Regions from separate parts of the Homo sapiens genome. Here region 1 is linked to region 2. The links come from fine-mapping of genetic effects on gene expression. Tissue or cell type: whole blood. Region 2 holds a variant in brackets; the other region holds the start of a gene. All regions are shown on one strand. Distances are from middle to middle.

Region 1 (5,432 bases), 22 kb before region 2:
AGGTCAGCCCAGGTGCAGCCAGGGCCACCAGGATCAGGAAGGGGAGCCTGCCCTGAAGGTCTCGGCCCAGACGCCCCAACCTGGCTGATGGGCACAGCATTCATGCTGGGAGTGCCCCCAGTAAACACTGGGGAACAAACGTGCCCCTGGCTGGGGCAGCTCCTCCCTCCCCCACCTAGGGCAGGGGGCCTGAGCTGGTTCCATCCAGAACCAAAACAAACACACAGGGCAGCTGAGAAACACACAGAGCAGCTGCGGAGCGACTTTATTGTCTTCTCCTTCGACAGCTTCGTTGTACATAGCTGGGCCCCCGAGGCCCTGACTGTCCCTGGGAACCAAGCCACGTGGGGTGAAGCTACTTTGAAACCTCACCCACAGTTCACACGTGGTGAAAGAGAAAATCTAGCAAAGTAAATCCAACAACAACCCAAATTAACAGTATTATTAACTTCCTACCCCAAGCTGGCTCTCCCCCAGGCCCTGAACTGGCTCAGGAAGGAGGCAGGAATGAGCTGACCGAGACAAGGCATCCTCCACCCACACATCCCATCTTCTGAGTGGTCCCAGAGCTGTGCGCCACCCCTGTGGGACAATCAGGCACTCCTGGGTCTCTACCAGCTGTGATGAGACGTACAAGAGGAGGGTCTGAGCCCAGAATAAACAAGAGCATCCTGAGGCTGGAGAGGCAGGCCCAGTGTGCCCGGACCACCCTGCTCTGCCTGAGAGGATGGGCTGGGTTCCAGCTGGCCCGGCCGCCACCTAGTGACTGCTTGGGACAGTGGAGATGATGACAGGATGCCCACTCGCCCTAGGCAGTCAGAAGCGGGGTACACACAAACACTCTAGAAGCCACACTTAGCAGGAATTCCCAGTCTTCCGGCCCAGGGGAGGGTGCCACCAGCTCAGGCAGCCCTCAAGAGGAGGCCGGGAGCAACTTCTCCAGGGCCTTCTTCTGCTTCTCGGTGGCTGCAGCCAGGGCCTCAACCAGCTTCTCCTCGGGCATCATGTTGAGCACCTTGAGGGCAAAGAGGAGCTGGCACTTAGCCGTGCTCACGAAGGCGTTGCTCAGGAAGTTGGGGAAGCCTCCGACTCGGTCCTTCTGGGTGTACAGCGGGACCCGCACGAGGCCCAGCACCTGCGCAGACAGGAGGTAGGGGTTGGGGCCAGGCCTGCCACACAATGGCACCTCCAGCAGGAGGGGCCTGGAAGCTATGAGGCCAGGGTATGAGCAGCCAGCTTTGCCAAGGACTTAATGGGAGACCCACGCAGGGCCTGGCAGAAGCCAGCCAGCTCCCTCGGAGCAGTGCAGCCCCCTCCTCCCCAAGCAAGTGTGGAGGCTGACCCCATGCACTCCCCCCCCTCGTACCCAGGCCACCCCACCCCGGGGTCCGCACCCCATGCTCCCCCCGTCCACCCAACGAAGCCTGAACACCCGCAGTCCAGCCCTTCCAGACCACAAAGTACAAATCCCAAGAGCCTTCACGCCCAACATGAGGTTCCCAAGTTTTACAACCCCCGCTGTGCTCAAGTTTCCCAACTCCCCAAGCAATCCCCGCTCCTCCCCCATCCCTTCCTCCCCACCGATCCCACTCCCCCACTCCCAGGATTGGCAATGGCAGGCAGCAAGGCGGATGTAACACAGCCCTGAGGGAGCCCCAGCGCCGGCCCCCACCCCCGCCCCTCCTTTCCCGGCCTCCCAGCCCCAGACCCCTCTCCCCACCCCATTGCTGGAGACAGCGACACCCGACCCAGCCCGGCCAGGGGACCCTCAGGAGACGTGTTACCCATCGGTGCCTTCCACGGGGCCAGAGCCAAACCCCGGGGCGGGGGGCGGGGCCCGGGCGGCGGCCCCACCTCCAGGCCGTGGTCGCGCGAGTGCACCGCGCTGATCTCCACGGCGTGCAGCTGCTCCAGCGTCAGCTGCCGCGCGTACAGGTGCGCCACGACGCGGTGTGGGCCCTCGGTCAGGTGCGAGCTCAGGTAGTCGGCCTCGGTGAGGCGCAGGCAGCCCAGGCCCAGGCCCAGCACCCGGTTCAGGCCGTCCTCCAGCGACCAGAAGCGCCGGTCCACGAAGCCCCCGGGGAAGCCCAGCAGCCCGTCGAAACGCATCTGCATCTGCAAGGGAGCGCGGGTCACAGCCGCGGGGTCGACGGACGCCCCCGCCCGGGCCCGCCCGCGCCGGCACCCTCGCCCGCGCCCTCGCCCGTCCTCACCAGCACCGAGAAGCGCATGGGGATGCGGCCGAAGAGCTGCCCAGGGTTGGCGGCGTACAGCATGGCGTGGCACGAGTGGCTCCAGCCCGGCCCTAGGCGCATCGCCTCCACCCGGCTGATCTGCTTCAGCTCCGGAACCGCCGCCGTCGACATCTTGGCACTGACCCCGTCCCCGCCGCTGCCACTTAAGAGCATGCGCGAGCCCGCCCCCGCCGTGCCTCGCCAATCCGCGGGCGGCCGCGCCCCCGGGTCCGGTTCCCCCGCCAATCGCCGGCGCGCCCCGGGACCGAGCCCCTCGCAGCGCCGCGGTGCGTCGTCGAGAGGTGCTGCGGGCGGTGTGCAAAGGAGGGCGGTGCGCGTCAGCCGTCACCCAATAGTCGCACACCCTGGGCGGCGGCCCCGCCTCCGACGGGAGAGCCTAGACGACTGGTCGGTGCCGTGGTGGCTCAAGGTTGACATTGTGGGCGACGAACATCTTCCTTGGCGCCCCAAAGCGGACAGCCGAAATTCCCTGCGGTTTCTCCACCCTCGATGGCGCCGATCCCCTTGCGCCCACCCGTTTCTCCCCAGGAGGCCGACCCGGCCCGCATGGCCCCGTCCATCCGCAATGGCACCCTTGGCACGACCACACGAGCCAGAGATGCCCCGGAGCCTTGCTCCGCCAGCGCCACCGGACCCAAGCCCGGAGGGAGATGGCCTTCGCCTGCCATGCACGACAGCTGTCCCGACCTAGCCACCCTGCTGGCAGGCTCGATCCAGGACAGCACGGGGAGCAGGGCTTGGCAGGGCTTGAGTGCCCCAGTCCCCGAGTCCACGCTGGGTCAGGGCGGACGACCGGGAGCTCTGGGGCTCTGTGGACCCAGCTTGCTGGGCAGAAAGTGACTTAAATTCCGGGGCTGGACCTTTCCAGCATCCTCCAAGCCGGGCACCCTGTGCCAGGTACTGTGGGGGGAAGAGGGGTTTCCCCAATTTACGATGAGGAACTTGGAGCTCAGAGAGGGACATAACTTGCCTAAGTACAACTGGCAGTTGATGACAGAGGCAGAATCCCGATTCCACAAGGGCCTGAGGTACTTACCACTTACCTTGTGTTTGTACTGGAGATGTCTCTGGGGCTCAGAAGCATCCGAAACAGCCCAAGGCAGAGCGAGGTGCCCTGAACTCCATGATGGCAAGGCTCACCTCACCAGCAGCAGGGCCCAGGGCCACTTTCCTCCCCACCAGGGGAATGGATTTGCTGAGCACATGAACCCCCCTGCCTGCACTCACAGCATGGGTGCCCAGGGCTGGGGCACAGCCTCGGGAGAGCCGTGCAGTGAGGCCGAGCTCGCTGGCACAGAGAAGGCTGCCTTCAGTGGAGGCAGGCAGGAGAAGAGAGAGGGAGAGGGTGGGCATTGGAAACTCACCTGTTAGGTCCGTGGTGGCCTCAGATGTGGAGAATAAGGACCCAGAGAGGGCACCTCTCTCTCCTCCTGTGGCCACCAGTGGGTCAGGGGTCACATGGGACAGCTGCAAGCAGCAGGGGAAGTCCAGATTCCAGAGTGAGCGACCATGTGAGAAGGCGAGAGGGCAGCGAGGGGAAGGGTCCTCTCACCCAAAGAGGGCCCCACCCCTAGGCAGCCAAGCCCAGCCAGCGCCCAGGGCCCGTGGGACGCAGGGGCAGAGGAGGAGAGGCTCCCCTTGCTGCAGCCCCTCCCCGAGACCAGACATCAATACAAGCGCTGGCTCTTCTGGGAGGTACAGAGGGGGAGCCCATCTGGCCCATGCAAGCACCCGTCTGACACCCTGGGCACCCCTCTACCCACACTGGGATGGGGCCAGACCCAGGCAGGTCAGAGCAGCTGCAGGGCCCATGGGTGGCAGCCTTCTCGGGGCAGGGACTGATGGGCTAGAACACGGGCTTTCCCTCCACCCTCACAGTCTTCAAAGAAGGGCCATGGTGGCAGCTTGACCTGCACGCAAAGGAGCTGGGGCCCTGAGTGGTAGGCAGTGGTGTGGTGGGTGCCCTGGGGCACTGGCCACTCCCTGGGCAGGGGAGCGGGGGCTGTGCAGAGGCCTGGGGCCGGGCTCCAGCCTGCGAGCCCACAACCATGGGCAGCTAGACCTGCTCCCACCGTCCGGCCTCCACACGCCAGCCGCAGGGTGCTAGCACTGCTTCTCCGCTTGGAAGCCTGTTTTTAAAACTGACTCCCCCTTATAAAAACACTCCAGCAGCCCCTACAAGCTCTTCAGTATCTATCCAGCACCCTTCACTCCAGCCAGGGGCTCCGTCCCCAGGGGACACATCAGGCTCACTCCTGCCACCTGGAACACTCTTCCAGGGCCAGCTCCTCCTCAGCCCTCAGGGCTGTTTAAGTCTCCTCAGAGAGGCCCTCCCTGCCACCCGGTTAAATGAGACCTTGTACGGGTTCATCTCACCACCATGCTGACTTTCTTCCTAATAGTAACCAAACCTGGCAGGATTCTGATTAGCTGCTGGGCATCTCACTGCCTGGAAGGCAGGCGCCCGGGGCCAGGGCCGGGGCCTCAGCTCTTCTGCCTCCACTGACGCACAGCAGGTGCTCAGCAAATGCCTTGAGATGATCAGGACTAGAGATGGGGACCGGAGCGACTACTCACAAACCTGGAGGCCCTGGGCTCCCCAACCACCTGTTCACGAGAGAGCCCAATCTGGAGGGTGTGGCTTCCCTCCAACCAGACAACTAGCCCTGACAGGGATGGCTGGGAGCTGCCCGTTCTCGTTAGCCCTCACCTTGCTCACTGCCCTGACCCCAGAGGGAAGCCAGGCAGAGGCCGTGGAGCTGCCACGGTGCGGGAGCCACCGCCAACCACCCAGCGGCAAAACTCCGGGTCAGGAAACAGCCACAATCCTGAGGGCTGCACCCGGAGGAAGGAGCAGACAGGATATTGCTGCATGATTTTATTACTATAAATATACAGTAAAAACGAACCAACGATGAGCCCATCTGAGCACATCAGACGGCAGCACATGGGAGTCCCAGCGGGCCACTCTGCGGCCCGAACTTCACGCAAAGCTCTGGCACCAGGACTGATGGCCAGAGGCTGGGGCCTTGGTGGGGGCGGGGGGCGGGCGGTGCAGGGGGCTGTGTGTGTTGTTGGGGAGAGGTGCATGGGGGGAGAGAGGTGCTTGGGGTGGGGTAGAGGTGCGTGGGAGATGCTCGGTCCGAGTGCACACACATGCATGGGAACATGTGCAGG
Region 2 (5,929 bases):
CCAGGCATGGTGGCTCATGCCTGTAACACCAGCACTTTGAGAGGCTGAGGCAGGCAGATTACTTGAGGCCAGGAGTTCAAGACCAGCCTGGCCAACATGGCAAAACCCCATCTCTAATAAAAGTAAAATATTAGCTGGCCATGGTGGCAGTTGCCTGCAATCCCAGCTACTAGGGAGGCTGAGACAGGAGAATTGCTTGAACTCAGGAGGCAGAGGTTACAGTAAGCTGAGAACTCGCTACTGAACTCCAGCCTGGGCGACAGCACGAAACTGTCTCAAACAAAAAATAATAAAAATAAAATAAGAATAAAGATTTCATTCACTCATCAATTTTCGTTCAGTTCATCTGCCCTGGAGCGCCTCTGTAGCCCTTTGTTCTGCAAGCCTTGCCTGGCTGGAGGCAGACGTGAAGATCTGAATGCCCCGTGCTAGCGTCCCTGCCAGCTCTCTCACGGTGACTGACTCCGACAGCCAACACGCCCACGTTCAGCACAGACTAGATGAATGACAACTCTTCTTTCTTAGCCATCAACGGACCTGTGGCCCCCTATCCCAGGACCACCGTGGTGTGGCCAGTCCCTAATTTCCAGAACCTTCCACAGAACAGCCGGCCGGGGAACTCACGCAGCCGGCAGATGGGGCAGTTGTTGGCCTGGTAGCGCAGCGTGTCGGCGCAGGAGGTACAGAGGCACAGGTGGCGGCAGGGCAGGATCAGCGTGTCCCGCAGGTCGGACAGGCACACCACACACTCGTTGCTGTTGTCGCTGTTCTCGTCGTCCGAGGGCTGCCGGGACAAGGGCTTGTGGGTCAGCAGCCTCCCAAAGGCCAGAGTACGGCTCCTGCTTCCTGTCCCCAGCTGTCCCACCCCACTCCACCCTACCCTGGGGGCTGTCATGACAAAGAGAAGTCCAGAGGGGAGGGGGAGGTTGCCCCAGAGCAGAATCACCAGGCTCAAATCCAGTGCAAACTCAGCACCTGGCAGAGGGGGAGGGTCTGTGCCCCTCACCCACCCAAATCATGAGAACATGGTCTCTTTCTGTTCTTCAGACCTAAAGAAAAAATGAGGAACAGATGCACCTAAGAAACACATCTTCCTGAGGGTCAGGGTACCCGTTATCTTTGGTTTAAAAAAAACCAAGTTAATGGTCAGGCGCGGTGGCTCACGCCTGTAATCCCAGCACTTTGGGAGGCTGAGGCGGGCAGATCACGAGGTCAGGAGATCGAGACCATCCTGGCTAACATAGTGAAACCCCGTCTCTACTAAAAATACAAAAAATTAGCCGGGCATGGTGGCACGTGCTTGTAGTTCCAGCTACTCAGGAGGCTGAGGCAGGAGAATGGCGTGAACCCAGGAGGCGGAGCTTGCAGTGGGCCAAGATGGCTGCCACTGCACTCCAGCCTGGGCAACAGAGCAAGACTCCATCTCAAAACAAACAAACAAAAAAAACAAAAAACAAGTTAATATGTTAGAAGTATTTTCATTAATGGCAGCTACCAGAAACCACATTAGCAACTGGACAAAAAGAAAGCCAAAAATCTAAAACAGGTGTCCACAAACTAGGCCTGTGGCCTGTTTCTATAAATAAAATCTTACTGGAACACCGCCACACCCACTCATTTTTATACAGTCCCCGCTGCTCCTGTTGTAATGGCAGCGTGGAGTCAGTGCAACAGAGACCATATGCCCGGGCGGCTGAAAACATTCCCTCTCTGAACCTTTTCTCAAAGTGGGCCGCCCCCTGGTATGAAACATGAATGCACTGACTTCCCTGGGTTGAGGCGAGGCCCGGCCAGGTGCTCCGCTCCCGCCACGTGGAGCTGCTCCAGTTGTCCTGGGCCCAGATGCCATAATGAAGCGGGCCTGTGAGACTTTCCAAGAGATCTTAAGAGGCAGGAGTTTCACTCATGTCAGTGTGCCTTTTAACAAGTTCATCGACCAGGCGTGGTGGTCTCAGGCCTGAAATCCCAGCACTTTGGGAGGCTGAGGCAGGCAGATCACTTGAGATCAGAAGTTTGAGACCAGCCTGGCCAACATAGTGAAACCCCATCTCTACTAAAAATACAAAAATTAAAAATTAGGCTGGGCGCGGTGGTTCACGCCTGTAATCCCAGCACTTTGGGAGGCCGAGGAGGGTGGATCACAAGGTCAGGAGATCAAGACCATCCTGGCCAACATGGTGAAACCCCGTCGCTACTAAAATACAAAAAATTAGCCGGGTGTGGTGGCGCGTGCCTGTGGTCCCAGCTACTCAGGAGGCTGAGGCAGGAGAATCGCTTGAACCCGGGAGGCGGAGGCCACAGTGAGCCAAGATCTCCCTGCTGCATTACAGCCTGAGCAGCAGAGTGAGACTGACTCAAAAAACAAAAACAAAAAAAACTAATTTCATCCCCTGCTACATTCCCTGACTGGGGTACACCACGGCTTATTTGTCAGGCACCAGGACTGGTTCTATGGACATACAGAATAAGCATCCCTCCCCCAGGAGCTGCAGGGACGTGCTGTCTCTGGGGAGGCGGGCAGGAGCCGGGCAGCAGGGTGCCACACACCTGAGCCTAGAGGGTGAGACACTGGCCCCCATTCCTGGGCTGCCCTGGGGAACCTGGATGGCAATTTACATCAGAAGCTAGTGAATTTGCTGGAGAAAGGATAAAATGTTCCCTAAACTGTTAGCTTTAAAAAAAATTAAGGAAAAATGATGTTGTCTAGCGGGTCTAGGACTCCAGGGGAAGGCATGGAAGGGAACCGGCAAGCATTGCTGTCCGCGGCTGCTCCTGGTGTGGGCTTCTGTAATGGCAGAGGGAAACCTCACCCAGATACACACCTTGGTCTCCTGGTTGTTCTTGTTCTCAATGCCATAGATCTCCTGCAGGAGGTAGCTGACCCGGTCCACCTGGAGAGCAGAGAGGGGCTCACTGGGCCCTCGCCAACTGCCATATGAGGGCTCCTCCATACCCACCTGGCCTAGCCCTGCCTCCAACTTACCAGGCTTCCATACCAGGGGTCAGTCCAGCTCAACCCCTGGGGGCCAGGAGAAGGGCAGGGAAAACCTGCTGCTTGCCCCCACCCAACCAGCAGCACCTGGAACAGGGCTGGAGCCGGTGGCTCTCCCCACTACTGGGGGCCTGAAGCCAACCCACAGGCCCAACCACCACCCCCTGACCGCCTCACCACCCCCAACACCACTTGGCTCCACCACCACCAGCCCCACGAGGAAAGCAGGAGCTGACGCCTGAAGGCACCAGACAGCAGCCTAAGTTCCCACTGCTTTCCAGATCCTCCTTCCAAAAGGCATGAAGCCTCTCTGGTTTCAAAGACGCCAAAGCAATGTCTCCAAGCTGATTCTGTCCTGCCACCCACTTGCAACCAAAAAGCCTCACGCTGACCACATTGCAAAGCGGTTTGTGCTGCTGGGTTTCCCAGAGACCATGGGCCAGGAGCACCACTCCAGGGAGCCCAGGGCCTGCTGGTCAGCTCTCTCAACACAAGGCCCTGACCATCACTGGGGTCTCCTGTTCCCCTGGTACCTG[CAGGGACCTGG/G]ACCTGCTAGAGTTTGCTGCACCTCTCTTTTGTTTATTGTGATTTACATTTTAAATAGACAGGATCTCGCTACATTGCCCAGGCTGGTCTGGAATCCCCAGGCTCAAGCAATCCTCCTGCCTCCACCTCCCATAGTGCTGGGATCATAGGCATAAGCCACTGCACCTGGACAAACTCTCTTCTAAAAAGCTAACAGATGGCCGGGTGCAGTGGCTTACACCTATCATCCCAGCACTTTAGTAGGAGGCCGAGGCTGGTGGATCACTTGAGCCCAAAAGTTTGAGACCAGCTTGGCCAACATGGCAAAACCTCATCTCTACAAAAAATACAAAAATTAGCCAGGCATGGTGGCGCGTGCCTGTAGTCCCAGCTACTCGGGATGCTGAGGCAGAAGAATCACTTGAACCCAGGAGGTGGAGGCTACAGTAAGCTGGGATCATGCCACTGCACTCCAGCCTCGGCGACAGAGTGAGACTCCATCTCAAAAATACAAAACAAAATAAAACAAAACAAATTAACCAACTGTGGTGGCGCACACCTGCAGTCCCAGCTACTTGGGAGCCTGAACGAGAAATCACTTGAACCTGGGAGACAGAGGTTGAAGTGAGCTGAGATCGCGCCACTGCATTCCAGCCTGGGCAACAGAGCGAGACTCTGTCTTGTCTCAATAAAATAAAATTAAAATTAAAATTAAATTAAATATTTAAAAAATTAAAAACTAACAAAAATCATTCCCAAGTGGTGGCTTGAAACAGGTCTTATGCGCCCCAACAGTACACACGGAGTAACTGTTAGCTGTGGCCTAGGACATCTCATTAGCAAGATCTAACACTGCTGTTTAGGGCACCCCATCCTCTAAATTCTCGGTGCCTACTTGTGAGGCCACCAGGAATAACACTTCCCAATGCAGCATCCCAGGATCGCTGACCCCAGAGAACAGATGTACTGCTCTATAGCTCCATTTATTCTCAACTATTTAATCCTTCTTTTCAAGTATTGATGAAGTCAAGCTAAGTCTCTGTCCAATACTGACATATTGGACAATTTGTAAGGAAGAGGAGAAGGAGTTGCAGACTTTGTTTCTGGTCTCTTTCCTTCCTTTTCCATCCATCCATTCGGCAAATATTTACTTAACACTATGTTCCAGACACAATGGCTCAAACTGGACAGAACTCAGGGCCTGCAGGCGTCCCTGTACATGGCGGGCACGCAAAACATATATGCTCACCCAAGACAGGGACCCGTCGTCCCAGAGCTTAGAGCTCTACAGGGAAGTCAACAGGCTGTTGCACAGCTTTTTTTTTTTTTTTTTGACACAGTCTTCCTCTGTCACCCAGGCTGGAGTGCAGTGGCATGATCTCGGCTCACTGCAACCTCCACCTCCTGGGTTCAAGCCATTCTCCTACCTCATCCTCCTGAGTTGCTGAGATTACAGGCATGTGTTATTATACCCGGTTAATTTTTTTATTTTTAGTAGAGACGGGGTCTCACCATGTTGGCCAAGCTGATATCAAACTCCTGGGCTCAAGTGATCTGCCCACCTCGGCCTCCCGAAGTGCTGGGATTACAGGCGTTAGCCACTGCGCCCAGCCCCTGCACAGTTATTTCAAAGGCAGCAGCAAGGGTAGCCTAGGAAGACCAGTGCATGAAGACTACTGAAGAGTGTGTGTGTGTGTCTATATATAAGTGTGTGTGAGTATATGTGTGTCTGTACATATGTGTATGTGTGTGTGTCTATGTGAGTGTATGCGTCTTTGTATATGTGCGTGAGTGATTGTATGAGTGTGTCTATGTATATGTGTGCAAGTGATTGTGTGTATGTATGTCTGTATATGTGTGCGAGTGAATGTGTGTCTATGTATATGTGTATGAGTATACATGTGAGTTTATGTGTGTGAGTATATGTGTGGGTATGTGTATGAGTGTGTGTCTGTATACGTGTGTGTATGTGTATATGTGTATGAATGTCTATGTGTGTGTGAATGGGTATATGTGTGTGTATCAGTATGTGTCTATGTATATGTGAGTGAGTGTGAGTGTATGTGTGTATGTGTACGAGTGTGTCTATGTATATGTGTGTGACTGAGTATATGAGTGTGTCTGAGTGTGTGCATCTGAATGACTGCATGTGAGTGTGAGTGTATGTGTGTATGAGTGTCGTGTCTGTATGAGTGTGTGCGAGTAGGAGTGTGTTTATGTGTGTATGTGTGTGTCTGTGTGTTTATGTGTCTATATATGTGTGAATGTGAGTGTCTGATGGTATGTATGTGTGTCCGTATATATGTGCAAGTGAATGTGTATGAGTGTGTATGAGCGTGTATGAGTATATGTGCGTGTGTATGAGTGTGTGTCTATGTATGAGTATGCGTGTGAGTGATTGTATATGTGTGT

The links. PIP is the estimated chance that this variant, and not a neighbour inherited with it, causes the effect.
Region 1: it holds the start of NUDT16L1, and the variant in region 2 is fine-mapped to the expression of NUDT16L1 in whole blood (TOPMed, PIP above 0.99).

What each region holds. Positions count from the first base shown.
Region 1 is chr16:4,690,661-4,696,092 of GRCh38, reverse strand. It overlaps NUDT16L1 (nudix hydrolase 16 like 1), which reads right to left and starts at 2,531. Exons shown (of 3, transcript NM_032349.4): 1 at 2,214-2,531; 2 at 1,855-2,115; 3 at 249-1,135. The coding sequence starts at 2,366. The coding sequence ends at 914. MGRN1 (mahogunin ring finger 1) reads right to left here. Exons shown (of 17, transcript NM_015246.4): 17 at 5,121-5,432. RefSeq lists enhancers at 501-1,001, 1,604-2,111, 2,112-2,619, 2,871-2,960 and silencers at 1,711-2,210, 2,321-2,680, 5,343-5,432.
Region 2 is chr16:4,668,353-4,674,281 of GRCh38, reverse strand. MGRN1 (mahogunin ring finger 1) reads right to left here. Exons shown (of 17, transcript NM_015246.4): 9 at 2,823-2,891; 10 at 625-784. MIR6769A (microRNA 6769a) reads right to left here and starts at 2,964; the gene lies at 2,892-2,964. RefSeq lists enhancers at 37-624, 625-1,214. The variant CAGGGACCTGG/G (reference allele first, on the strand shown) is at 3,529.